Linked DNA regions of Homo sapiens. The protein of the gene in region 3 interacts with the protein of the main gene of each other region in a biochemical or structural test. Each region holds a gene or a part of one and is shown on either strand. Other genes may lie near its edges.

What was found.
Region 1: the proteins of VLDLR (region 3) and DAB1 form a complex in vitro, tested with the Homo sapiens proteins (2 studies listed by BioGRID).
Region 2: the proteins of VLDLR (region 3) and CD36 form a complex in vitro, tested with the Homo sapiens proteins (one study listed by BioGRID).
Region 4: the proteins of VLDLR (region 3) and LPL form a complex in vitro, tested with the Homo sapiens proteins (one study listed by BioGRID).

The regions. Positions count from the first base shown.
Region 1 is NC_000001.11:57,414,061-57,421,060, forward strand, and holds part of DAB1 (disabled homolog 1), read right to left. Parts: intron 1-7,000. UniProt on the Homo sapiens protein: Signaling adapter of the reelin-mediated signaling pathway, which regulates the migration and differentiation of postmitotic neurons during brain development.
Region 2 is NC_000007.14:80,634,659-80,641,656, reverse strand, and holds the start of CD36 (platelet glycoprotein 4), read right to left. Parts: upstream 3,016-6,998; 5' UTR 2,911-3,015; intron 1-2,910.
Region 3 is NC_000009.12:2,624,771-2,631,809, reverse strand, and holds part of VLDLR (very low-density lipoprotein receptor isoform a precursor), read right to left. Parts: intron 1-7,039. UniProt on the Homo sapiens protein: Multifunctional cell surface receptor that binds VLDL and transports it into cells by endocytosis and therefore plays an important role in energy metabolism.
Region 4 is NC_000008.11:19,934,922-19,942,274, reverse strand, and holds the start of LPL (lipoprotein lipase precursor), read right to left. Parts: upstream 3,023-7,353; 5' UTR 2,835-3,022; coding exon 2,747-2,834; intron 1-2,746. UniProt on the Homo sapiens protein: Key enzyme in triglyceride metabolism.

The DNA.
Region 1 (7,000 bases), on a different chromosome or scaffold from region 3:
AGTGAAGATGCTGTGAAGATTGTTGAAATGACAGCAAAGGATTTACATAAACTTATTGATAAAGCAGTGTCAGGGTTTGAGAGGACTGACTCCAATTTTGAAAAAAGTTCTGCTGTGGGTAAAATACTGTCAAACAGCATTGCATTCTATAGAGAAATCTTTCATGAAAGGAAGAGTCAATCAATGTGACAAACTTCATTATTGTCTTATTTTAAGAAACTGACCCAGCTACTTCAATCTTCAGTAACCACCACCTTAATCAGTCAGTAGCCACCAACATTGAGGTAAAACCCTCCACCAGCAAAAAGATTATGACTTGCTGAAGGCTCAGCTGATCATTAGCATATGTGAGCAATAAAGTATTTTCAATTAAGGTATGTACATTGATTTTTTTACATAATGCTATTGCACCCTTAACAGACTACAGTATAGTGTAAACATAACTTTTATATACACTGGAAAACCAACAAATTTGTGTGACTCACTTGATTGCAATATTCTCTTTATTGCAGTGGCCTGGAATGGAACCAGCCGTATCTCCCATGGATGCCTGAATTTATTTAATAGTAAGCATTCAAAAACACCCATGATTTTCCTCCTCTCCTGACTATTTGCCATTTAGAATAAGAAATACAGGTAGCATATGATGAAAATTAATATATAGCTAGAAAATATAATTTTAAAGATAACATTTACAATGGCAATTACAAAAATATAAACCACCTAAAACTCAATCTAAAAAGAGTGCATGCCCTTTGAAGAAAATTATAAACTGTATTGAAAGACATTAAATAAGAACTAAATAAATGGAAAGAGTTACTACATTTACAGATAGAAAGACTCAGGCTCAATGTCCTAATGATGGCATTATCTTTTAATCAGTCTATAAGTTTGATAAAACTCAAATCAAATCTCAACAGTATTCTTGTGAAACCTTGAAAGATGATTATAAAATGTATACGGAAGAAAACAGCCCAAGAAAAGCCAAGACACTCTTGAGACACTTTTGCAGAAGGACACTTTTAGGGATGTGTCCTGGCCAATACCAAGATTCATTAAAAAGCTATAATAAAGTTTGGTTAGGGCAAAAGAGTGGCTAAAACATATGCTTAGAAATTGACTCTAAGTTCCAGGAAAATCATTTTTCCATATGAAAGAAAATTAGAATAAATGCCTACCTCACACAACACACACACACACACACACACACACACACACACATATATGCACACACTCCACATGGATTAGAGAACCTAAATTTGAAAGGCAAACAAAACAATAAAGCTTTTAGAAGACAACAAAGGAGAATATCTTCATGACATCAGAGTGGGAAAAAAAAGGCTTTCTGAAACAAGACATAAAAAGTGCTAACCATAAAAGATTGATAAATTCAACTACGTTAAAATTAAGAAGTTAGATAGCAGAAGGTTGGCAAAAATCCAACTTCTATGTGGTCTATAAATCTATTCAGCTTCCCAAAGGCATAAATAACCTTTTTGCATTTATTGGAACTATATTCTGACAACACATGCCATAGCTCAGATTCAGCATATGGTTGGCCCATCTTTGACTTTGTCCACAATTAGATTACTAGCACTACTGGTTTAACCTGAGTATATTTGAATGGATGTGGCTTATACCTAGAACTTTCGTGAGTAGACATATAATACTGCTCAGAATAACATGGCCTGCAATTCAAGACAAGCACCACCACATGCCATCATTATAGGTACTGCTACACCATCACCAGGGACTAGGATTGTACAGCATCTCTTCCTTACCCTCTGTGCAGCGTTTTTCTATGTTTATGATCATTCACACCACAAAGTTCATTCTTGTTCTGCTAACTGCTGGGATTTAACTGCTACTACAAAAACTACCAGGAGAAATATATATCAGTGAAAGCAAGGATAGAAAACCCTAGGGTAGATCAACTTCTAACCCCATGAGAGAAGGTAATCTACTGTCTCCCACACAGCCATGATTTTGTACCAAAAGCTTCCTCCGGTGAGCCTGTGAGTCTTCCATTTCCTTTCTCCTCTCATTCATTCTACCATGCATTCTTCACCAATATTCTGCCATTCACTCTACATGTTGACATATATACCATAATATATGAATATAGTCTGAGACAATAAGAGAAGAAAATGTCACCCACATATGACTTATGTTTAAGGTGATGTAAATTTTTTCAAGATGTCCCTTGCATATATCAAAAGAGATGCTTCTGTTGGCATGATAGTATCTAATAACAACACTCTGTTACTGATGGGAAGTTATTTCTTGGGGACCCCAAGGAATGGAACCTCATAAACTTTCAATGCATTTCATGTCAGGGTACTGAGTAATTACATAGCATTACAATTTTAAAATTTCCTCTTTGGATGAAAGCAGTTTTATTTATAATTTTTCCTATAATGGAAGTAGATAGCTCTAGTGAATCGACTGTTTTAATAGGACAGATTTGGATAAGTAGTTATTGTTAATGATTTTAAGAGATGTCAATAAAACATAGAAATGACTTTCAACAGATAATTATTATAATTCACTCCCAAATCTAGATTACAAAATAAAGAATCACAATAAAAAATGATTTTCAAGTTCACTGATCACAAAGAATTTCAATATTGTCTATGGAAAACAATTTACCCTAATCTTTTTACCCAAATTAACTTAATGAACCACAGCAGACTGAACACATTTAATTCAATTCAATTAAGCAGAAACTTATTGAGCATCTACTACATTCCAGACACCGGAGTTAAAAGGGACAGCTATATTTCCTTTCCCTAAGTAGTTCATAAATGTCCTTTATTCCAGTATAATTATTAGGCAAAATACTATTTCTTTCTTATTACCTATGTAGTGACTAGCTAGACAGTTTATAAATGTCCTTTATTTCAGGAAAATTATTGGACAAAATACCATTTCTTTTTATTATATATACAGTAATGAGCTAGAAAGTGAAGAGAATTCAGTGGAATTGTTTAGGTTTGTTCTGGAAAAATATATTCAAAAGAATTATCAAATTTAGGATAGTGACTATGTCTGCCAAGAGAAGGGGACGTATGATCAGAGAAAGGTTACCAGGAGGTTTCAACTGTATTTAACTGGCTTTATTTCATTAGCTGAGTGGTAGGTACAAAACTTTTTATTATATTGTTATTTATACTTTTTGTGTGTCTTAACCCATTTATGCCAGAGGTTGCAAATTGTTTTTTGTGAAAAATGAGACTTTGGTGATGACCTTGAGCAGTAGGATATAAATAACGCCCACAAGCTTAGCATTCCAATAAAGGAACACTAGGCATAAATGGGTTAAATATTCTGTCCTACATTTCAAATCACACACATATTATTTTCATGATAGAATGAAAACTACTCTTAAAAGGCTTAAGTGATTCTCTACATTTTTCCCAATCTATTTCATAAGACACTGAGAGATGCTACTTGAAATCAAAGGTTCTATGGCAAATGAATTTTTAAAATTCTTCATGAGTTAAATGACTTTAGTGCAGAAAATCTCTGAACCTTTAACATATCAGTAAATACCACATCTTACTAAGAACAGGATATATAATTCAATATCTTCCAAACATTTTTGAACATGGAACTTATTTTTCCCTCTGAGCCTTCTTCCTTTTGAAATATTCATAATGATCTTAGGGGACATTAGTGTTTCCTGGGACACAGTTTGGAAAATGCTCTATTAAAAAAACCCATTTTGATGCATGTTCTACATTACCTCTGTACCCAATTATGCCCATCCCTAAGTCAATAACCATCCTTCATGCTTGCATGACTTTGTCCATGAAGTCCTATCAGTCAGAACTGCCTTTAAGCCTTGAGAAACTCCTGGTCAGCCTTCAAGACCTAGGTGAAATGAAGCCTTCCCCCAGCCTTTCCTTTCTCCAGGTAGAGTAAATTACCACCTCCAGAAGGTTCCACAGCTGTATACATATTTTCCATAGCGCATCTCCTGCTGTAACAGTTATTTATGCATGAAACCAGGTCCCTAGATGGCAAACTGTGCAATTGCATCTTGGTACTCTTCACAATGCCTAGCACAGAGCCAGAGTCAAGCACAAAGTAGGTGCTCAGTAAACATTTGTTGAATGGACATAGAAGTGATGTTTATGTGCATGACCAGAATGTTCTTCCTCAATTTCCCAGATTCTCTCAATGCATATTCACAGCTTTTCAATTATTTTCAGTTGCAACACTAACATGAATAAAAACAAAGAGACATAAAGACTGAATGTGACAAAGGCAGATAGAAACGAGGAAAGACAGAGACAGAGAAAGAGCAAAGAAAGAGATACCTGAATTGATGGATACCAAGTAAACAAATCATGAGTCCATTCAAGAGATGCAGAGACTGACCAACAAAGAAAATTGTAAATCAATATGAAGCTCGGAGCAGATGCATGGGGTTGGTAATTTGCAAGACTCACTACAGGTGGTCAAGAGGGCCGATTTGGGTTCATGCTGAACTACTTACAACTATTTGGGAGGACCCATCCCCTTATTTTTATACCATAAGTTAAACAGCCCGCCTTCACCACCACAAAATTTTCGTCATTTTAGCTGTCATCTCTTCTATTCAGCAGAATTTTATTTATATTTTCCTTTCTGTTTATGAGACTCCCCCACTGGCATTGCAGATTGGTTATATGTCAGCTTCAAATAAAATAAAATAATAATAATAAAAGCAAGCTTGCAATTTCTTTCCAATAGAATATGCTACATATTTCATAAAATAGATGCCAGAGGAGTTTTATGATTCCTCAACCAAAACCTTCCCACATCTCAAAACTAAATGGAAGAAAAATAAAAAGAACATGTCAAAGAAAAAGAAATCTGAACATTTGCTCTCCAATCAGAGGGAAATATCCAGGTGATTAATTTGATTAATGAGTTGTTTTCATTTTTTTACATGAATTTATATCCTGATATGCATTTCACAGATTCAGTTCAGTGTGAGTTTTCATGGATATAAATGTACATACCAGAGGAGGGGTTTTCTTTTCCTACTGACATGCTTTTTTCAGTACAGAATGTCTAGCTGGCTCATGCTCTTAGCCTGACAACACCTCCTCTGCCAAGTTTTATTTATATTTTCAAGCCACGTCTCTATCCTGGTATAGGAGACAATCTGGTCTAGTGAAAGGAGCACTGGACAAGGAGTCCAAGAATCCTGAGTTGCGATGGCGCCTCTGGGCTGTAAAGTTACGTATCTCTGCAAGCCTAATATTCTTTCAATCTGTAAATTAGGACAGTTGACAAACACACCTCTAGAATTCAATCAAAGTCATTTTACTTTCCTCAGAATAACTGCGGAAAAGTAAAATGGCATGGAAATTTTAACATGATGTGTACTTCCACAACTCCTCTTCACAAAGAGCCAAAATGTGTAAGGAAATATTTCCAATTAAAAAAAAAAAAAAAAAACCTTTGCCTAAAATCCTAAAATGTATCTCTTCCTAAAGATAGACCAGATACTATTGGGATACATAACTCTCAGAATATCAATGATGGAAAACTTTTTCATTATCTAGGAGATGGGTTTTTATCTCATTTGAAAGATAACACTAATAGCTAAGTAACTTTACATGCTAGGTATTATTCTAAGCACTTTGTGTTAGTTCCTGTAATCTTCATAATTTTATGAGGTAAGTACTGTTATTTCATTATAAAGAAAACTATAAAGCACAGAGAAGTTAGATTAGCTGGCCAAGGCCACACAGCTTACAGAGCTGGTAGAGCTGAGATCTGAAGCCAGGCAGTCAGTCCAGAAACGAAGTCCAGACTCCTTACCACCTGCTATACCACCTTTTAGTTTGAGAATCTCTGCTTACCACAGCTAGTAACTGAGAAAAGCAGTAATGCTGTTTCTGCGTTACTAATTGCCTAAACAATTATTTACTAATTGATTACTAATTGTTACCTAATTAATAAACATTTTCACAGAGTAAATAGATGTGAACCAATACTAACCAATGCCTGATAGAAACTGCCACAGAGTCACAAGTGTTCAAAGTGCCTATCATTGCCCCACTCCCTGTTGATGATAAGGTAACACCCATTTTGTTTGCTAGCATCCAAAAATGGGGAAATATGTAGCTTGCTCCTATAGAAGTCTTACTATTTCATTATTCTCCATTAAATTTTACACCCTGGGAGCTAGCTGGGATCACTTCCTCACTCAGAGGCAGCATAACAGTGGTTAGGACAGACCCTGGAACAAGAATGGCTAGGTTTAAATCCTAGTTCCATCCCTTACTTGCTATGTAATCTCAGGCCAGTTACCAAATCTTCCTGTGCCCCAGTTTCCTTATCTAGCTAATACAAATGAGAATACAAGTATCCACATCCTAGGGTTATCTGAAGATTAAATAAGTTAATATGTGTAAAGTGCTTAGAAGCATTCCTGACTCTTAGTAGTACTCCATAAAGGTTAATTATTCTTTTTTATTAACATGAAAGGTGACTTGCCAAACATCACAAAGTCAGAAGTAGCTGGATTCAATCCTGGTCTTCCAATTCCAAATGCCATCCACTTTCTTGAACAGAATTCCATGCTGTCTATTACTAAGAGATCATTCTCTTGAAATCCTGCTATGTGCCAAAGCACCCAATCATATGATTTTCTCCATAAAATTGCTCCAAGACCCACAAGGTAGGTAATATTGTCCGTTTTGCAGATGATGAAAGCAAGGTTCTGGGAAGTTGAGATTCATCCTCAACTGCTTAACTCAACCACGAGTATTCTTTGTCTCAGTAAGTCCTAAATAACATTTAAAGTTCCGGACAATACCCTTCAATTTATGCTATTTTTAAAGTGCCATCTAAGAGACATAAACTGTGATTTTCTTGCTTTGTTTGCTTTATTAGTTTGAGAGAAGGATTAAATCCCAGCAAAAACAAAATGTTTGACTTGAGTGAATTATCAAAATGAAATGCTGCCTCCATTAGATTCTTCATCTGCCTGCAGGGTGGC
Region 2 (6,998 bases), on a different chromosome or scaffold from region 3:
TTTTAGATTTCCAGGGTACTTGTACCATAGACACTTGCCAGACCTAAATGACATTTTCTTACTGATCAGTAGATTGCTAAAATTTCTTTTTTTTCTATCTATAAGCCTTCCTCCCACTTTTTCTTAGGATAGAAAACCAGACCACACTCTTGTTTTCCATTCTCTTGATACAGAGAGTTTTCCTTACCTAAAAAATACAGCATCTGTCCATAAAATCTAGTTTTTGGAGGACTTGGGGGAATTCATTCAACGGTTTGCATGAGTATAGAAGTTAGTTTTTAAAATTACTTTTTTCACATTATCATAACTATGTATGTTTATAAAGACACAGTTCCCTATACATGAGTAAAAATGTAGATTCAAATTCAAGGTAGTAGAAATGGGTGTAAAACAATCATTTAACTATGATTATGTTTCATCAACATAAGGTCATTAGGTCATTCTTTATAAAATCATGTTTAGAGATAGAATTCTCCTTTCAAGGTAAATTTTATGCACAATACCAATATAAAAGATAGTTCAAAGAAGAGTTATTTGGTAAAAGAAAGGAGCAGAAACTGTGCCTCTTCCCTTTCCCAGTCACGCTTCACTTGGGCTCTGAGTCATCTCCAAAGAACCCATGGGCTCCACAAGTAATTTTCAAATAACTGGACTATGAGATCTCCAGAATCTTATCTTACTGAAATTATCTCATGTCCATTTCTATCCTATCAGAATATATGATGGTAAAAATGTAAAATAGGAAAAAACTTGATAGACATCTGTAATATAAAATAATTACATACTTCTCAAATATTGCAATTTGTAACTTGTTTTGATGGTAGTCTTTAAAAACTAATGCAATAAATACATTGGACTTTATATATTATACTTGGGATCCTTCTAGAAACAAGTCCCGTCTTTTAAAGACTTATGAACCAGGGATTACTGTAGGTTTGAAATTATTCCCTTAAGTTCATACTGACTTAAAGAGTATTATCTAGACCCATTCTTAATTTTTGAACCTTAGACAAGAATGCTAATGTCTTTTTTCCACACCCCAAATTCTACTATAAACAGACACTATAAAGTTTGTAATGCCAAAAATGCTGGACCTTGAAGCCAAGAAATGTAGATTCAGTTCTGGGTGTTAGTATTGAAGTTTGTCTGTGATACAGTTTTCTCTAAAATGAGTTTACTTACATCAAATAAGGTTGCAAGTATTAAATGAAGTAAAATAATATATATTTATATTGTAGAAAATGTTATTGTTATTTTGAAATATTACTATGAAGTATCATTTCAAACCATAACAGTAAAGTGTTATTTCATATTGGCCAAGTGTTTTAAAAATCTAATAAATGTGTATATTTTACAAAAGTAGAAATGAGTATTTGCAAAATAGTTAGATTATAATGAAATGTGATCATATATGTATGGAATTAAAATATGCAAATGGAAAGACAGCTACTAGTTTAGAACAATGCTACTTGCAAGTTTCAGACACATCTTGGGCCAGTGAACAAAAACATCTTCTGATTAGATGCAAGGATACTTACAGAATTAAGTATCTGATAGTTACAGAATTATCTTAAACTTTCCTTTTCAGGAAACACACAGGAAATACACACACATGCAGGGTTCAAATGTGTTAAAGTAAACAAGGTTAAAAAAATTCCTTAAAAAAATAGGGTGGCAACTATAACTTCCAAGGTAAATTCCAAATTCAGTACACTCTGTGCAAGTACCTCCAGTTGTAATTAATATTCTTCCCAGGCTAACCCATTATCTGATGGTTCTCTGTTTGGTTTATTGTTCTGGTTCACTAATGAGTCTGGGAAATTAAATGATTTCTACTTTAGTTCTTATTTTCTTGTAAATTCCAAAGGACCACTGGACTTTCTATATAACAAACATTTTTAAATATTTCATTTTGGCTTCCTTGTGAACCAATATTTAAAGCAATATTTTTTAGCTTCAACACACATTACTGACTTCAAACCACACAGAAAAAGACTAAAAAGTACATGCAAATCTTTACAAAACAGGTTTCAATATGCTACTTGATGATTTCAGAAACTGGGATGTACTCTAGAGAATTTATGCCATTTACAGTTATTTATAATTTTAGTTAATGTATAATTAATTTGAGGCTTTTACTTAATTCCTCCAAATTGATTTCTCCTTTACTTCAACTTGGCATCATCATCTAATAATTCAGTACTATTTGTAATAAGCTTCCTGAATCGAAAAAAAATTAACTTTATTTTTATTCTACTAATTTACACTAATTAAATTTCAGATTATTTAAAAGTAATATACTTTGCTATTCCCAGTAACAATGACAATATCTTTGTTCATTACAGAAAAGAACTTAAAAAGCACATATCCAAAATACACATTGCATTTGATCATGTAGAGCAAGTCAGGTATACCAAAAGTTGTGCAATTCAGATTGAAAATTAAACAAGCTAATGACTCTGTAAAGTAATAGTTAATAATTGCATATTAGACAACATGTTGACATAAGAGCTGTAAGTCATTTATAACATCTAACCTCATTATATTGGTCTGCAGTATAATGATCTTCATCATTTAAACATCATGTATAAATAGCCTAAGTATAAAATGAAAGTTTTATAATAATCCAAATTGGATTATAAATCACTTTAAATATTAACTTATACATACGACATGAAATGCCATTGGGTATGGTTTAAGCATAAAATATAGGAAGGTTGATAACTTGAAAATAATGCAAACCTGATTTTTAGATAAAGCCTAGTGACTAAGAAAACAGTTACTACCTTTTTTCCTGTCCTCCTATATAACTTCTTAGGAGTATTTATACAGTAGTGTCACCTCCCGTCATCTGGGTGATGGGAAAAATCCCTTAATCTTTTTTATTTAAAGAAAAATCATACAACTTACCTTTAAAATGGCTAAGAAGGATTTTTCAATCAAATGCTCCAACATTTGGACAATTCTTAATAGGATCAAATGGTATTCTGCAGGAAAGTCCTACACTGCAGTCCTCAGTACATAAATGCGTGAGAGTTTAAATATGCAACCACACCCCCTCCCCCCCCCAAAAAAAGAGAAGAGAAAGCACTCTACAGTGTCAGATCCCAGTGTGTGGTTTGTTGCCAGAGGAATTGAAAGAAAAAAAAAATCCCCCACACAGCACATTACTGATATGGCTAATAAGGGTCTATTTTTATGTTCTGGTGAAGACCCATTACCTATATCTGAGATATTCAGCATTTTTTTTTTTTTTGGCTATTTCCCATCCAAGTAAGTCAGAGGCCAGAAAAACAAAAGGAACTGACTTGCTGAGTTTCCCCTAACATATTCTCAGATGCTGAACTGAGACCGCTGGTGGAAATAGTAAATTTGGAAGAATAATCATATTCTCACTTCCCTGTCTTGACTGAGCTTGCGAAACTTATTTTATTAAGTTTAAATTTAATGTACTTTTTTATACAGCGTAATTCTGAAATACTGTGAGACTAATAATTCTGAAAACAATTGGAGACTGTCAATCAGCAAGGATGACAAACTGACTTAAAAAAAGGAAACAGCCTATTGTTCTAGCTGGAAGTTCTTAACTGTTTATCATTTTCTGTTAGTTTTGCAAAAATTTCATGATCACAGCACAGTGCTCCTACAAAAAATAAACTCTTTAAATTTCTTCAACCAAAATATGTCTAAGTAGAATTACTATTGAGGATAATCTTTAGTACTTAAGTCACTTTCAAAAAAAAAAAAAGCATTATGTTGATATTGAATCAAAATAGAAGGCCTTGCACTTTGGGGAAAGAACCTTCACTATCAAGACCCTGTTCTTATAAAGAAATTCTCAGAATCATACAGGAAAACCTTCACAGGGTTAACCTGGCATGTATTTGATAGGAGAGCTGGATAAATGCATTCAAACAACCTTAGAAGTAAAGTAACCTAAGAATACCAGACAGAAATATATTTAGTTCATTAGGTCATATTTAAACCAGTCCTTAAGTTAGAATGCTCGTGCTGTCCTTTTTGGGCATGTGAGGCACACAACGAATCCTTTCATTTGCAAGCAGTGCCATACAACTGAAAAAAAAAACCCCAAACACTCTTTTCTCCTCAAGAATTTTTTTTCCCCAGGGAAGTTTTTACTGACATATTTATTTAAAAAATAAGTCATAAAAATATTGTAAGTCTATTACTTTTTTTTCAAATCTCAGACCACTTAATTAGGATAAAGTAGAAATGACCATGTGCAATCTCTTTATAATTTATGCTTTCAGTTAGAAAAGAATAACTCACAGTGATTTCATGAAACTTAAGAAGGTAATTCCCTTAAATAACTGCGACCTTTTATCTTGGTGGCACGATATAAAATGGTAGTATAAAGACATATTATTTTGGTTAAGAATATCTATTTTGTAGATAGCTGTTTTGTATTTAAGCTAATTTATTTCTCAACCTTAATTCTCACACACTCACACTCTAATATGACAATTCAGAAAAAGATTACCAACGAAAGGGTTCAGATAAGACCTGTTTAAAAGAGCATATTTTAAAGATATTAAAAGACTAAAGTATAATGAAAATATGATCGCAATTAGAGAAAGATTATTTCAGAAAAAATACATGCAAAATAGATGCCTAAGTTGACATTAAACTTACTTGGGTATTATTTAATCAGTAGCCTAATGCCATTCAAATCTGCTGTCACTGGAGAGGAAAATGTCACAGAGTCCCATGAGCAGTCCAAAGAATCAAATTTACATTCCCAGAGACAGCTGTTAAGTGTTCAATCCCATAGACAACAGTTCCTGAGTAGCTTAGCATACAAGATCTGAAAGCACACAGCTGAGTCAAATCTGCAACTGTGGATTTTTAGAAAAATATAGACCTTAAACAATAACATAGCAAAATGCTGTACCCATTTTAAAGTAAAGAGTGTTGGGGTTTTCATTTTTTTAAAGACTATGCACCCACCATATTTTGAAGGGATGTGTTTTATGTGAGCATATACCTTGCTTTATGTAAATCCACTATAACACTGGATTAATTTATTAGAATGACAGGATATAATTTTCAATCTACTTCAGTCAGTTTAGACAATTCTTTGGAAATTCTTTTTTTTTTTTTTTTGCAAGAGATCACATAGGGTTAGAAATTGGAAGGATGTAAGTTTAAATCCTCAGGCTACCGGGCCCTAGTTATATTGACTTGTAATTGGAAGTTAACTGCTTGTTCTTCTTTTTCCAGATTTATCAAGGTATGAATCATTTTGACATGTGTATACACTGTAAAATGATTGCCATAATCAAGTTAATTAACATTCATTGCTCTCATTTTCATAATCAAAGAATAGAGAAAACTAAATAAAAGAGTAATAATAAGAGCTAAGAGATGAGTAGTGTACAATACTTGACAGGAGCCTGAAAATTTCTAGGCACTCAACACTCCCCATTTCATCACCCCCACTTCCTACAAGCCTCCTCCCCTCTCCGTTCTCTGCTTTATTTTCCACAGGTCACTTATCACCATCGAAGAAATTCTGCCAATTGACTTTTGTTTTTGCCCTGTCTTTGCACCTGCTAGAATGTTGGGTTTTTGCAGAGGGGGATGCTTGTCTGTTTAATTCACCACTGAACTTTGCACCTGCCTTTGCACTTGCTAGAATGTTGCGTTTTTGAGGAGGGGGATGCTTGTCTGTTTAATTCACCACTGAACCCCTATAGTACAGAATAAGCTCATAGTTGGTAATAAGTTGAATAAACAGACACACACAAGACTATTATAACCATCATAATGCTTTACAAGTAGTGAGAATGAGTGGAAATGAGAGACTATTATGCTGCTTCTTCATACCATGGATATGTAATGGTTTGATTCAGATTAAGAACATCTGCTAGGAAAATGAATGGAATCCGAGTCTGAATTTGGAATTCATCACTTCCTAAGTGTATGACTTATTGCTAACTACTTTACCTCTCTTAAACATGGTAGAAATATCTCCCTCACAGAATTGCTGTCAAGATTAAAAGTGATAATATGAAGGATTTAGCACAGAGCCTGACATAGTTTTTGTTTAACAAATAATTGTGGCTGGGCTTGGTGGCTCACACCTGTAATCCCAGCACTTTGGGAGGCTGAGGTGGGCGGATCACTTGAGGTCAGGAGTTCGAGAGTAGCTTGACCAACATGGTGAAACCTCCTCTCTACTAAAAATACAAAAATTAGCCAGGTGTGGTGGTGCATGCCTGTAATCCCAACTACTCAGGAGGCTGAGACAGGAAAATCGCTTGAACCTGGGAGGCGGAGGTTTGCAGTGAGCTAAGATTGTGCCACTATACTCCAGCCTGGGCAATAGAGTGAGACTCTGTCTCAAAAAACAAAAACAACAACAAATAATTGCATGGCCATCACTGGCTATCACGCACAATTTTATTTTAGAAAATGTATTAAGTATGGAGAGAAAGCAATATTGAAAATTATAGAAAAGTGTACAATGAGAGGCCTCAATCCCCAATTGTATTCCTCAGAAGTAACAAATGTTAAGTGTGTGTTAACCTTCCCCCAGTAATTTTATAATTTTCTAAAGTATATTAGCCATTTTTATTTTAAAACATTTGTAACAATATCCTTTTCACCTTTTTTTCCATAAATTGCTTTGTCCCTTTCTTAATAATTAGTAGGAAAATAGTCTTTGGACATTTGACAATTTTTTTTTAATTTGACAATTTTTACTTTTCTGTTTGTATGTGTAACTTACAGAAATGTTTACATTTTTATTCCATAAACTTTGAGTCATTTCCTTTTGAGGATTGTATCATGCTTTGAAAGCCTTTATCCACTTTGAGCATACTAAAAAAAAAATAAACTTTCTTTTAGCATTTGTATAGTTAAAAAAAATCCTTTTAACAGTACTTTTGGACAAGCTGATTCATGGAATGTAACACTTGTGAAATAAAAGAGGAAGAGTACAGTAAGTTGAGTAACAAATATTGCAACATATTTGA
Region 3 (7,039 bases):
GAATCTATACTGATGAAATCCGAGGATTTAGGGTGTCCATCACGCGAGCACGTTTTTGTTAACTACAGTCATTGACGTTATTTCTTCTACCTTACTGTAGGTTTGTATTCTTTAACCCACTTCCTTTCATCTGCTCTCCCTTTCCCCCTACTTCTGAGTCTCTGTCATCTTTCTACCATCTACCTCCATGGAATGAAATATTTAAGCTTCCACATACGATTGAGAACATAAGATATTTGTCCTGCTGTGCCTGGCTTATTTCCCTTAGCATAATGACCTCCAATTCCATCCCCATGCTGCTGCAAATGGCATGATTTCATTCATTTTCATGGCTGAATAGTATTCCATTGTGTATATGTACCATATTTTCTTTACCCTTTCATTATTGATGGGCATTTAGGTTGATTCTGTATCTTTGTTACTGTGAATAGTGCTGCAATAAACATGCCAGTGCAGGTATCCCTTGGATATACTGATTTTTCCTTTGGGTAGATACCCAGTAGAGGGATTGCTGGATCAAATGTTAATTCCAGTTTTAGTTTTTTGGGAAATCTGCATATTGTTTTCCTTGGTGGCTGTATTAGTTTACATTCTCACCAGCAGTGTATAAGACTTCCCTTTTCTCCATATCCTCAGCAACATCTGTTGTATTTTGTCTTTTTATTAATAGCCATTCTGACTGGTATAAGATTATATGTCATTTTGGTTTTGGTTTGCATTTCTCTAATGATTAGTAATGGTAACGATTTTTTCATGTATCTGTTGGTTATTTTTATGTCCTCTTTTGAGAAATGTCTATTCATGTCCTTTCTCCACTTTTTAATGGGATTATTTTTTCCCCATTGTTTGAGTTTGTATATTCTGGATATTAGTCTCCTGTCAGATAATAGTTTGCAAATATTTTCTCCCATTCGGCAGGTTGTTCTTCACTTTGTTGATTATTTCTTTTGCTGTGCAGAAGCTTTTTAGTTTAATTAAGTCCCATTTGTCTATTTTGTTTTTGTGGCCTAAGCTTTTGAGGTCTCTTTCATAAATTCCTTGTCTAGACCAATGTCCTAGAGGGAAACTCAGGGTTTTTAATGCATATAGAAGTCAGCCGCCATTGTCTAATTTTCCCTGTAGCGGTTGACATGGAGGACTAATACATAAGCTTCAGTAAAAAACTGCATAGGCCTTCGAGTAAATACCAAGCCTTCCAAACGGACTACAAATCTCCCTATGGGGCTCCGAGCAGCACCCTGGCAGGAGCACTCCAAGATGCATGCCCAGAATATAGAGAAAGTGTCTCTGGGTACCAGGCTCAGAGCGTACTTCAGCCTGCACAGAGGCTCATGCTGCCACACTGCTGGGGCCACCAGGGCCAAGCATTTACATCTCTCATGCCCTTACTCATTGCTTGAGCATATGGGTGTTACTTGCTGGAATTCCTTCCGTCCATTTGTTTTGGCACTTCTGGGGCCACCAAGGGCATTTATTTTTAGTCTAGTTCACTTCTACTGCTTGCCACTTTAATGACAGTGTTTCTATTTGTAAGCTAAAACTCCTTTCAGGACAAGCAAATTTCTGAGTCAGCAAAAAAGTTTTCCTAAGGGGAGAAGGGTTTGTAAGAGGCAAAGTACCACAACAGGTGTTAAGGGAAATGTTCTGAGCTGTCAAGCACAAAGATTGTGCTCTGGCCTTAAAGTCAGCCTCTGAAACATTGTAAGAACCAGTTTGGGCCAGGCACGGTGGCTCATGCCTGTAATCCCAGCACTTTGGGAGGCTGAGGCGGGCAGATCACCTGAGGTCAGGGGTTCAAGACCAGCCTGGTCAACATGGTGAAACCCAGTGTCTGCTAAAAATACAAAAATTAGCCAGGCATTACACACACCTGTAATCCCAGCTCCTTGGGAGGCTGATGCAGGAGAATTGTTTGAACCTGGGAGGTAGAAGTTGCAGTGAGCCGAGATAGTGCCATTGCACTCCAGCCTGGGCAACAAGAGTGAAACTCCATCTCGAAAACAAACAAACAAACAGCAACAAAAACACTAGTTCGGGGGCCACTAAAAAGTGGTGAATATGTAGGCTAATTCTTCTGAGTCATGGAAATAAGTGAATTTTACAGTTCAATTGTCAGTTACATTCAATTTCCATTTACATCAAATTGATCTTAAGAATCATGGACATAATCAAATCGTTTTTGTTGTTGGTCAAACACTGCTCTAAGACTTCACATCTCTTAGCTTTTAAAATTCTTAATCCTGCACAGTTGGCCCTATTATTCCTCTTTTACAGATCAGGAAACCTGGTAGAGAAGGAAAGTACAGTCACTTGTCCCAGATTGCCCTGGGCAGAGCTAGGAGTTGAACCCAGGCACTGGCTCTAGATACTGTGTTACTAAGCATCAACTTAGATTTAGCCTTGTTGTTGAGATGGAGGCCTGCTTTCCTTCCTCATTCTAAGTTTTTAAAAATGTTTCTAGAATTCCTCAGCAAGTCTTCTAAAAGGATTATAGCTCTTGGTTTTCTTGTCTAGGGTTCAAGTCAGAGGAAAGGCCCTCCATCGGATATACCTTGAAAATCGTTAGCTTCTGTGAGTGGTAAACTAAGTCAGTCGTTCTCAAGCTCCCGTGTGCATCAGAATCCCCAGGAAGGCTTGTTAAAACACAGAATGCTGGGCCCCAGCCTGGATTCTGATTCAGCAGGTCTAGAACAGGGCCTAAGTTTGCATTTCTAATGAGTCAATGTTGACACATGAACTCAATTAACATTGAATTAATGTTGCCAATTTCGGTCCACACTTTGAGAACCACTGCACTAAGGTTAAGAAGCTACAGCTTCTACCCATAATGTAAGTGGCTCTTTCATTTTCAGGGTTGTAGCATATACCAATAACACCCTCATAAGGCCTAATGTTCATCACAGGAGGGACACAGGAGATAAATGCCTCTTTTACAATACACATGATAGTAACATGTGAGTAAAGCCCTCAAAACTATTTTGCAGAAAAAATTTATTTGGGTGTCTTACTAGGCAGAGGTTCTTCTAAAATCCATCCTTCCCTCCCTGTGTAGTCTATCTTTGATTGGCCCCATTACTTACTCTAAATCAGTACTCCAGAAATGAGCCCAAATTCTTCCCTGACATTTGGCCATCAATCCCTGGCTATGCCCAAGCCCTCCTCTCACCTGATGTCAATTTAAATGTCTTGTTCCTTTGCCTCCAGGCTGCCACATTCTCTACCCATATCAAGCAACCTAGTGATTCAAGCAACCTAGAATAGCCAAGAATGGGGTCATTTCTTGGCTTACCACTATCTCTAGGATTAAGTTCCCTACTAATTTCCTCAGACTTTTCCCTATTGGTCACTACCCACCATCTGCTATACGGGCTGAGCTAACAGCTCAAAGGGGACCCACTCACTTCCCCATGGCTTTGCCCTTCCTCATGGCTGCTTTGTCTCAGTTTGTTCATGTTGCCCTTGTCCACCCATTCACCAGGAGTGGGCTCAGATTGTATTCTTGAATGAGGCCTCAATGCCTTTTTTGGAAAAACTAGGTATGGTCTGGCTGCTTTCTCATAATAGTCCCTGTCACAGAGCCATCACCCAAGGAGATGAGTTCAGCTACCATTTTTCACCTTTAGACACAGAGATCCCCTAAGGCATGGGCTGCAGTTCACATTTGTAACTCAGGACCTGGTGCCTGACATCCTATATTCTCTAGGCACTAGTTGGTAGTCTTGGGTGCATGAGTTGATTTATTAGTTTACTAATAAAGCTGGTCTGAACTAAAAACTTTTGTCAAAAACATTTCCCCCAGCTTTTTCAGAACTTGAAACCAAGTGTGACTGGTTGTTTTACTAGCTAGAATACTTTGAAAGACTCTAGGTTATAAAGGTCCCTGTTCCCTAGGCCTATGAGGGTACCTTCACCTCATCTTTGTAGCAATTTTTTTTTTTTTTTTTTGAGATGGATTCTCGCACTGTAGCCCAGGCTGGAGTGCAGTGGCGTTATCTCGGCTCACTGAAATCTCTGCCACCCGGGTTCAAGCGATTCTCCTGCCTCAGCCTCCTGAGTAGCTGGGATTACAGGCTCGCACCACCACACCCAGCTAATTTTTTTGTATTTTTAGTAGAGATGGGCTTTCACTATGTTGGCCAGGCTGGTCTCGAACTCCTGACCTCGTGATCTGCCTGCCTCGGCCTCCAAAAGCACTGGGATTATAGGTTTGAGCCACCGCGCCCGGCCTCTTTGTTGCAATTTATCATTTAAAAACAGTGCATTTTCACACACTTGTCTGTCAGAATGAGTGTGTCCCTTTGGGTGTGTTGGCTTCATTTCCATGTGAAAAGAGAGGTTCCAACACCTGAGAAGGTTAGCAGCGGCTAACTGGTAAAGTTGAGTGTGATATATCAGACGCAGATTTTACTTCTGACATGTTTTAATGCTCTTTGGTAATACTGGCAGTAATCCATTGTTGCTTTAGTCATATCACTTTTGTAGGATTATCTGCAGACATAGAATTATTTCTGGCTTTTTGAAATTAAAGTCTAAGTTCTTGGTAATTTTAGGGAAACTTCATAAGCTAGAACCCAGATAGCATATGGAAATTCCAGAAATCTCCAGCTGCTATCTGCCTCTTTTATGATTAAGTCTTAAACACTGGATCTGCTCACTCCTCTTCAGAGCTTCTATTCCAAGCGGTCTTTGGCTGTTTCCTGCTTTGATTCCCCTACTAGACTAAGTGCCACAAAGGAAGGAACCAGTGCTATGGTCACTCTGTCCCCATGCCTGGTGCCATATGGTAGGTACTCAGTAGATGTACATTAAGTGGTTTCCAGAAGATGCACAAAGATGACCAACATCAATCTGCAACCTACTTAGTGAACATACAGATCAGTTAATACCTCAGATGTGGGGAAGTCTTTCTTAAGAAAATGAAAGATTAGAGGCAGTCTATAAAATAGAAACCCTGTTTACTCACAGCATGTGGGAGAACTATTAAGTTCTAACAAACTTGTGATGTAACTCACAAATGCTGTCTATCGCCGAGGCTTTGTTATGTCCCTTGGTTGGCAAATTGCAAGTCCCCCCATCCCCACCACCTCGTCTACATACATAAAGGCTCCCCAGATGGCCCCCAAGTTGGCAAAATCAGCTGCTCTAGCCAGAGGCTTCATCTTATAGTTTCCAGCATCTCTAAACTACAAAGTAGGCAAAGGATCTCTAAGCAAGCATTGAAACATTTCTAACAGAATCTCCACACTTACTCTCACAGGACCTAACAGGCATTCTCTTGCTTAGAGACTCAAAATAACTGTTGGGCCCAAGCTTTCCTAGGAGACTTCACTCAAGGGGAAAAGTATGCTAAATTTATGGTCCAGGTTGAGCATCCCTAATCCGCAATCTGAGATGCTCCAAAATCCAAAACTTTGAGTGCTGACATGATGCCGTAAGTGTGGAAATTCCACACCTGACATCACGTGACAAGTTGCAGTCAAAACTTTGTTTCTTGTATAAAATCATTAAAAATAGTCTATAAAATTACCTTCAGGCTATGTGTATAAGGTGTATGTGAAATATAAACGAATTTCATGTTTAGACTTGGGTCCCATCCCCAAGATACCTTATTATGTATGTGTGAATGTCCCAAAATCTGAAAAAATCTAAACTCTGTGGAACCCTTCTGGTTTCAAGTATTTCAGATAAAGGACACTTAACCTGTGTTATCACCTGCCATCTCATTTGGTTCCTGCAGTGCAGTTAGTGTACTTAACTAAGTGGTATTAACAGTGTTTAGAGTTTTTGTTGCAAGCCAATAGACGAACTTAGCAAAGAGACACTGATTTAGTTTGAAAAATGCAGACAGTAAAATTGAGATGATTTTTACTTAAAAGCCAGATTCGCCTATAGCTAGGTTAGACTCTGCCCCAACTCTTCAGAAAAACTATCAGTCCTCAGATTTTCTAGCCCAAAACTCTTTAGGTGGCAGAAAAAATTGTCCCTGGACTACTTACTTCCGCTTAACAAGTATATCTCGCCCATAACCTCAGCAGACAGTATTTTTGGACTGTTTGCCTTGAAAGTAGTCTATCACTCTGTTGTCCAAGTATTCTTTTGAGATTAAATTAGTAGGGACCAAACTAAGCAATTTTGAATTTATCAACTAACCATGTAGAGGGCAGTTGTATTAGCCACCACAAGGAGCTCCCTAAGGCAGGTACATTTACAACGAACATCATTATAGACCTCATCAAGCCCTTTAATACATTTAATTTCTTATAGGCTAGTATGTGAAGGTGGTTTTCCAAATGAAAGTCAGTATCCAAAGTGAATGCAATCATTACTTTAAGTCACGTAGGCAACTGCCTTGTCTTAAACACTTTTCCCTGCACTGAAAAGAACAAATTTACATTCTGTGAGAAACAGAAAATGGGCTAGATATTTAAAATGAATTAGCTGTATTTCTATGCTGTGTGCCAAGTCTTCAAGGTTTGGGATCAAAACCCGAAGCCACACGGCTGGGTACTATGTGTTCCCTTGATCTTATGGTCATGTTCTACTCTAGGAGTTCTTGTTAAGTCTTATCAATTTGATACCTCTCCTGGAGCAGAAGGGGCTTGTAACAACTTTTTTCCTCTTCCAAAACTGTAATGAAACTACTCAAGTCAAGTTTACGGTTATTCAATTTTATGACAGGTAGAGACACTTGGATCAGGTCTTCACTTCTTTTGAGCATGGAGACTGTCACCTTTGCTAGCAATGTTTAGTGTTAAATAGCAGTCTATTGTACTAAAGTCTTAATATTTGGCAGCTCTACTTGACCTTTATACATGCTTTAAGTATCTGGGGACTCAGGCCATAAAAGCAAACAATCAAAATGACACAGGACAGGCACTATAGGTAAATGCCACATAAAGTGGGCAAGAGGGTGATCCAGGGAACAAAGCTACACTGGATTTCATGAAGCTGTTACTGCCAAGGAGGGCTTGGCTGGTGACCTTCCTTTACGCAGTCCCTGCTCACATGAGTGATCAGTCTTTGATAAGGGGTACTATCA
Region 4 (7,353 bases), on a different chromosome or scaffold from region 3:
ATATTGTAAGTTGCAAGGCATTTTCTTGAACAATCTGGCATAAGGCAGTAAACTCTATGGCCCAATTTTTCCTCCATAATAAAGCAAGAACAGAAAGCTGAGTTAAAAATAAGCTGCTGAAAGAAAGCGAAAATTTTCCATCGCCGCTCTTCCCCCGTACCTGACTCCCACCTTTCAATACAGCTATTAATCAATCACTCCCTCGCTGAGCTCTCCTTCAGTGACATCTGCTATTTTGCTCTCCTTTGCCATCATGTTCAACTCAGAAGACAGCCTGGAAATTCACGATGGCCAGGCAAGTGGAACTTCAGCTGCTAAGCACTGACCATACTCTCCCTCTCCTAGCTCTTCACGTTTCCTAATTGGGGCCATGCAGAGATGGTGGTGGCTCCCAGGACGAAGTGCCTGAGGACAGTGCCTCTTGTCCTCATATTCTTGTTAGAAAGAATCCAGAATGAATAAGTAAACTCAAGAGCCCAGAGGAGGTGATCCCTGTCTTTCTACCACGGTGACATCTTTCTCTCCCTGAAATTCTTACCTTCCTAGATGAATGCATCTGGAGGAGAAAGAGGGAGAAAGTTGCTGTGATGGGAGAGGCATGATATATTGGGTGAGTAGAGTGAAAGTGGAGGGGATGGGAGGGCATCGTTTCCAGTCTACTTGGAAATAATCCTTCCTTAATATATTTACAGCTAGGAAAAGCATGTGTTGGCTACAACTCAATTAAACTAATTAATCACATAAGTGTCCACTTAAAGAGGCAAGAGTTACACCAGGCTCAGAGAACATTGGCCTCATCCAAACTCATTGCAGAGTTGAGGAACCTAAACCCAGAGAGGTGACACTGACTCCCAAGAATTTAGGATCTTGAACCTGTAAGGGAGCCTAGGAAAAACTTGAATGTGATGACATATTTCGGTGCTTGTTTTGCAATGAAAATGACGTTATTCTATGGTGTGCTTTCTGAAATAAGAATTTGGAGTTGGCTCCTACCATCTTCTTGTCAGCATTAAGCAGTACGAAGGGAAACATACGAAACATACCCCACCTAAGATGTTGAAGACTTTCTCATCAACTCTCCAGTGTTTTCAAACTGATCCAATAGAAAAGATACTTTTTTTCTTATCCAATTTTGCTTTGATGGAATCTATACTTAGTGTTTGTTTTGTTTTGTTTTAATTTTATGAGACAGGGTCTCACTGTCACCCAGGATGAAGTGCAGTGGGGCAATCACAGCTCACTGCAGTCTACTGAAACTCCCTGGCTCAAGTGATCTCTCAGCCTGCTGACTATCTGGGACCACAGGCACAGGCCACCACGCCCGGCTAATTTTTGTATTTTTTTTTTATAGAGACGGTGTCTCCCTATGTTGCCCAGGCTGATTTCGAACTTCTGGGCTCAAGCTGTCTTCCGGCCTCGGCCTCCCGAAGTGCTGGGACTACATGGGTGAGCCACTGCTCCCTGCCAACTTTTTGTTTTTTAACCTAACAAAAATGTTTCACAAATTAATGCCAAAATAAAACAAACGTTTAGCGGCCATCAAAGCTATGGAGAGACTCTATTATAACTTGAACCGCTGGGGACGTGCCGCCTGAGAGCACATCCAAGCGACACCGCCCTAATTGCAATTCCAGCATGGAAGAAAAAAGGAAATGTTGTCCCGTGTTATGAATGGCTTCAGCTGCTCTCTATGCTGCTGTTGCATGTTTACTGAATCGAGGTTCGAATTAAGCAGGCTGCCTCCATTGCGGACAGGTCTGAGACATTCTCATTTGGCCCCGAACGCCTGGACCCCAGCGAGCGGGCGGTTCCCTGGCGGCGGTGACCACCGTTGTGCTCGCTGCCTCCACGCGGCGCCCGTCAACCCCACGTGCTCGCAGCCGCGCGGCGGGGCCGGGCGCCCGGAGCTGACCTCAGCCCCCAGGACAGAAAGGGTGGCCAAACGCAGACCTGGCAACCCCCCGAGTCGGCGACCACAGATTGCTGGTGGCTGCGCCACGGTTTCGGGAGGGTCAGCCCCTCGCTGGGTTCTCAGGGCACTAAGAAAAGAGGGGCATGCGAGCCTGGAAGCTGGAGAGAGTCCGGGGCTCCCCAGAGCGGGTGGGACGCCGCGTCCCCAGGACTCCGCGCCACGCGTACTTTCTCCACCCCGACACCCACTGCCACTCCCACAGCGGAGCGAGGGGCCCCGCCGAGGGCGAGCGTACCCCGTGCGGCTGAGATGCCCGGAACGCCTCCCCGCGCCCCGGCTTCCCCAGAAGGGGCCACAGTCGGCCCGCGAGTCCCCGGGCGGGGGCTGAGCCGCAGTGCCAACCAAGGCGAGGTCACCTTGGCCCGCGCGCCTTTCATTCCAGGGCCCCTCCGGCAGAGAGGTGACTGCAGGTCACCGCCAGCCGGGCCCTTACTCCCCGCCTCCGCCGTCCCGGCCCCCACACCCCGGAACCTCCCCGGCGGAGCCTGCGAGCCCGGGAACGCGGTCCCAGCCAGAGTGGAAGGGATAGCGCGGGAACCCGGCAGAGAGAAAAAGCGGGAACTGGGCGCCGCCGCTTCACGATCGGGAGGAGATTCCCTCCCGGCCCCTCCTGGATCCCACTCCGGGGACCGTTTCGGGGCTAGAGCCCAGGCTGGGAGAGTCCCTGGGCGCATCCACCGCCCCTTCCAACTTCCTTCTTCTCATCCTCAGTTCGGGTGGCAGTGGCCACCCGCCGGGTCTGCAGGTGGAGGGGAGTTTGCGCGCAAAACTTACGGTCGGCGGCGGCCACCCCTCCGCGGGAGGCGGTCAGACTCTGGAGCCACACGGCCAGAGTCAGCACGAGCAGGGCTTTGCTCTCCATCTCGGGGCGCGTCCCTCTGGAGGAGCTGCAAGGCGCGGACCGACTGATGAGCCGGCTGAGCCGGAGGCTGGAGAGGGCTGGAGCCGCGGTTTGGCGCTGAGCAAGTCGCCCTTTAAAGGGGATGGCAGGGCAGCTAGAAGTGGGCAGCTTTCCCTTGAGGAGGAGGAAGAGGGGGAATCGAGTCTGACACTGTTTTCACGCCAAGGCTGCTTATGTGACTGGAAATATGCAAATAAACCTCATCACCTATTGGCTATAAAATCATAAGTTGGGGGGAGGGACCTAAATTCACTTCTAAACGTTTGAGCAAACAGTAATGAGGATCAACCCTGCCAACGAGAAGAGGGGGAAAGGGCAGACGGAAAAATTTGCTTTGTTAGGCTCCTGTTCGCTTAGCTTAAGGGGTTCCACTCTACCCGGGGGCCCCCTGTCTAAGCACCAAACACAGGTTTACATCGATTCACGTTAAATACTCAACAATCACCTGTTTTCCAAGGAGGGAAAGTTTAGCTGTTAAATTACATTTGATCGGCACTTTAATACACCTCTCTTTTGACGAATCCTGTTTGTCACTTGCAGTCCTCCCTCACTCACCCCGCACCCCATCCCCACCCCCGCAAAGTCAATGTAGGGATAGAGGGACACACATTGCGTCCCAGCTTGTGCTTGTACAATCTGGTGTTTTAACATTGGCAAGATGGATCAGCTTATGTGATGGAGAAAAGCCTACTTGCTCTAACTAGTTTCTAATTTTTGTCTCATGCAAATTATTCTCAATCCTCAAACTCATCAAGGAATGCAAGGATAATATTTTATGTTCAGAGGCAGAACATCGAGGTCAAATAATCTAAAGCCGTATTGAGTTATGATAAGTGAAAGAAGATAGTCGCAAAAGACACATATTGTATGATTCCATTTAAAGTGTCCACAAATAGACAAATCCATAGAGACCAAAAGTAGATCAGTGCTTGCCTGGGGCTGGGTAATTAATAGGGGAAGGGAAGAATAGAGATTTGGGGGTAGTTGATGACAATGTTCTAGATTACATTATGCTGATGCTGCACAACTCTGTAAATATACTAAAAGCAACAGAATTATGCACTTTCAATGGGAGAATTATATAGTGTGTAAATTATAGGTCAGTAAAGCTATTTTTAAATGGATAAGAGGCATGCACATAAAATAAGAAAAAAATAACATTAGATACTATGCTTTTCTGCCAAAATGCTTGGAATACTTTTAAATATCTTTTTAAATATAAGGGATTTACATTAGCCAGGAAGGACAATGAAGTGTATCCCCAACCCCCTCTCAGTTTATGGCTGAGAAACTGGCTCATCAAATCAGAACCTCCAATCTACTATATTTATGGTCTGAATATTTTTAATGTCCCCTTTTATTCATCCCACCCTCCGTCACACACACACAAACATACAATGCACAATTGTAGGTTAGAACAATGAAATGCTTTTTAAAAAACTGGGCTCACTTTTTAAGTTTTTCTCAAAAAATGAAATAAAAGTTGATAATACCCAAATATTTCAAAGGTCTCTATTCTGCATAACAATTCTATCTTTAAGTTGATGCATTCCGTGCCACAACACAACACACCGTCTTGTATTGCAATTATTACACAATATACTGTGCACGTTCACTCTAACCTACAAAGTATGTAGAGAATCTTGAAACCTGCCAAAAATTAAACTTCGCAGAACTTTAGAAGTGGCAGAACAGACCATGCAAGGGATGAATAACTATGATATGGCCGTCCTCCAAAAATCATGTAGTAAACTCTAATTTTAAAAAATGACAGAAGATGAATACAATTGCATTGGATGTGTTCATGGTGTGAATGGCATATAAACAGACGTGCAGAACTGCCTGCTATCTTATATAGAATACTCCTGCAGCCTATTTTCATGCATAAATGTCCTTTGATAAGACAACCAAATCAAACTGCACTTCTGTGCCTTTCAGAAAACTGCAAGGAGATTTTATATAATTGCTAAGGGAAAGTCTGATACTTATAGCGTATTTTTAAAATGATTTCCCAGGCTAACCAGATAACAAAATTAAAGCACTCAAGAGTTGGAGGATATGTAATATTTAAATATGAATCCAGTTTGGAGTGAACTGTGCCATTAGCACGTCCAATAGAGTTGCTGAGATTTCCAGGAAGACTTAATTTACAGCAGCTTAGCCTGGTTAAAAAAAAAAAAAAAGCAAGACAGGTTGGCTCCTCTCCCAGGGCCAGCGCGGAGCAGGTGGGTGTGGCGGCAACGTTCTCTCCTGATTGGCTGCACTGGGAGCCATCAGGTGCCCGCCTTCTAACGCAGAAACTCACATGATCTCTAGGTCAGGATTGCATGTGCATTAGTGAAGCGACTCATCCAAACTTTGGCGAGGTTACTCGGCCTTCAGTAGCTCAAGGCTTGACTTTTTCCATAATTGGCATTTCCTTTGTAACAAACTAAGTTTTAGGTGAGAAGAAGCTAACAGTACCCCTTTAGCAGGACACTTGCCACTGGGACACATTTAAAATTACCTAAGTAAAAACTTGAATGTGCATATCTAATGAAACAACTGGAAATTCTGGATGTAGGGAAGCATTATTTAGCTGGCCAGCCAGCTAGCTAGCTAGCTTGCTTATTTTGATTGAAGGCCTGCTAATTGCACTGGGCACTTTTCATCTTCTACTGTGTTTAATCATTACAAAAGCACTCCAAACTCAATAATATTCCCCTTCTACAGATGAGGGAAGATGAAGCTCAGGGAAGATTAAATAACAGCAACCACAAATCATAAGATGTTTTTTCTTTGGCGATCCTAGCCGAGAAGCAAATATGTATTTGATGTGCTATATTTTAATGTTGCAGCAATTGCAAACAGGAATAGGCTGGGAATCAGATTTTTTTTGTACACACATATTTTAATGTAGATTTTTATTTTGTGGCTTTCTTACTAAAGTAAAATACAATGAAATGTGTAAGTAGGCTCTAAAGAACATCAGTACTGAGTCGGATCTTGTCCTTATAAAAAGTATAATTAATGTAAGAAAACATACTAATACAAATAAAATGTATAAATACAAAGTCATAATTATTTAAAAATATTGTAAAATCTATTGAATTTTTAAAACATTTTATTATTATTATAGTTTGAGTTTTAGGGTAAATGTGCACAACGTGCAGGTTTGTTACATATGTATACCTGTGCCATGTTGGTGTGCTGCACCTATTAACTTGTCATTTACATTAGGTATATCTCCTAATGCTATCCCTCCCCCTCCCCCCACCCCACAACAGTCCCCAGTGTGTGATGTTCCCCTTCCTGTGTCCATGTGTTTGCATTGTTCAATTCCCACCTATGAGTGAGAACATGTGGTGTTTGGTTTTTTGTCCTTGTGATAGTTTGCTGAGAATGATGTTTTCCAGTTTCATCCATGTCCCTACAAAGGACATGAACTCATCATTTTTTATGGCTGCATAGTATTCCATGGTGTATATGTGCCACATTTTCTTAATCCAGTCTATCGTTGTTGGACATTTGGGTTGGTTCCAAGTCTTTGCTATTGTGAATAGTGCCACAATAAACATACATGTGCATGTGTCTTTATAGCAGCATGATTTATAATCCTTCGGGTATATACCCAGTAATGGGACGGCTGGGTCAAATGGTATTTCTAGTTCTAGATCCCTGAGGAATCACCACACTGACTTCCACAATGGTTGAACTAGTTTACAGTCCCACCAACAGTGTAAAAGTGTTCCTATCTCTCCACATCCTCTCCAGCACCTGTTGTTTCCTGAGTTTTTAATGATCGCCATTCTAACTGGTGTGAGATGGTATCTCATTGTGGTTTTGATTTGCATTTCTCTGATGGCCAGTGAGCATTTTTTCATGTGTCTTTTGGCTGCATAAATGTCTTCTTTTGATAAGTGTCTGTTCATATCCTTCGCCCACTTTTTGATGGGTTTGTTTGTTTTTTTCTTGTAAATTTGTTTGAGTTCATTGTAGATTCTGGATATTAGCCCTTTGTCAGATGAGTAGGTTGCGAAAATTTTCTCCCATTCTGTAGGTTGCCTGTTCACTCTGATGGTAGTTTCTTTTGCTGTGCAGAAGCTCTTTAGTTTAATTAGATACCATTTGTCAATTTTGGCTTCTGTTGCCATTGCTTTTGGTGTTTTAGTCATGAAGTCCTTGACCATGCCTATGTCCTGAATGGTATTGCCTAGGTTTTCTTCTAGGGTTTTTATGCAGTTAGATCTAACATTTAAGTCTTTAATCCATCTTAAATTAATTTTTGTATAAGGTGTAAGGAAGGGATCCAGTTTCAGCTTTTTACATATGGCTAGCCAGTTTTCCCAGCACCATTTATTAAATAGGGAATACTTTCCCCATTTCTTGTTTTTGTCAGGTTTGTCAAAGATCAGATAGTTGTAGATATAGGACATTATTTCTGAGGCCTCTGTTCTGTTCCATTGATCTATATCTCTGTTTTGGTACCACTACCATGCTG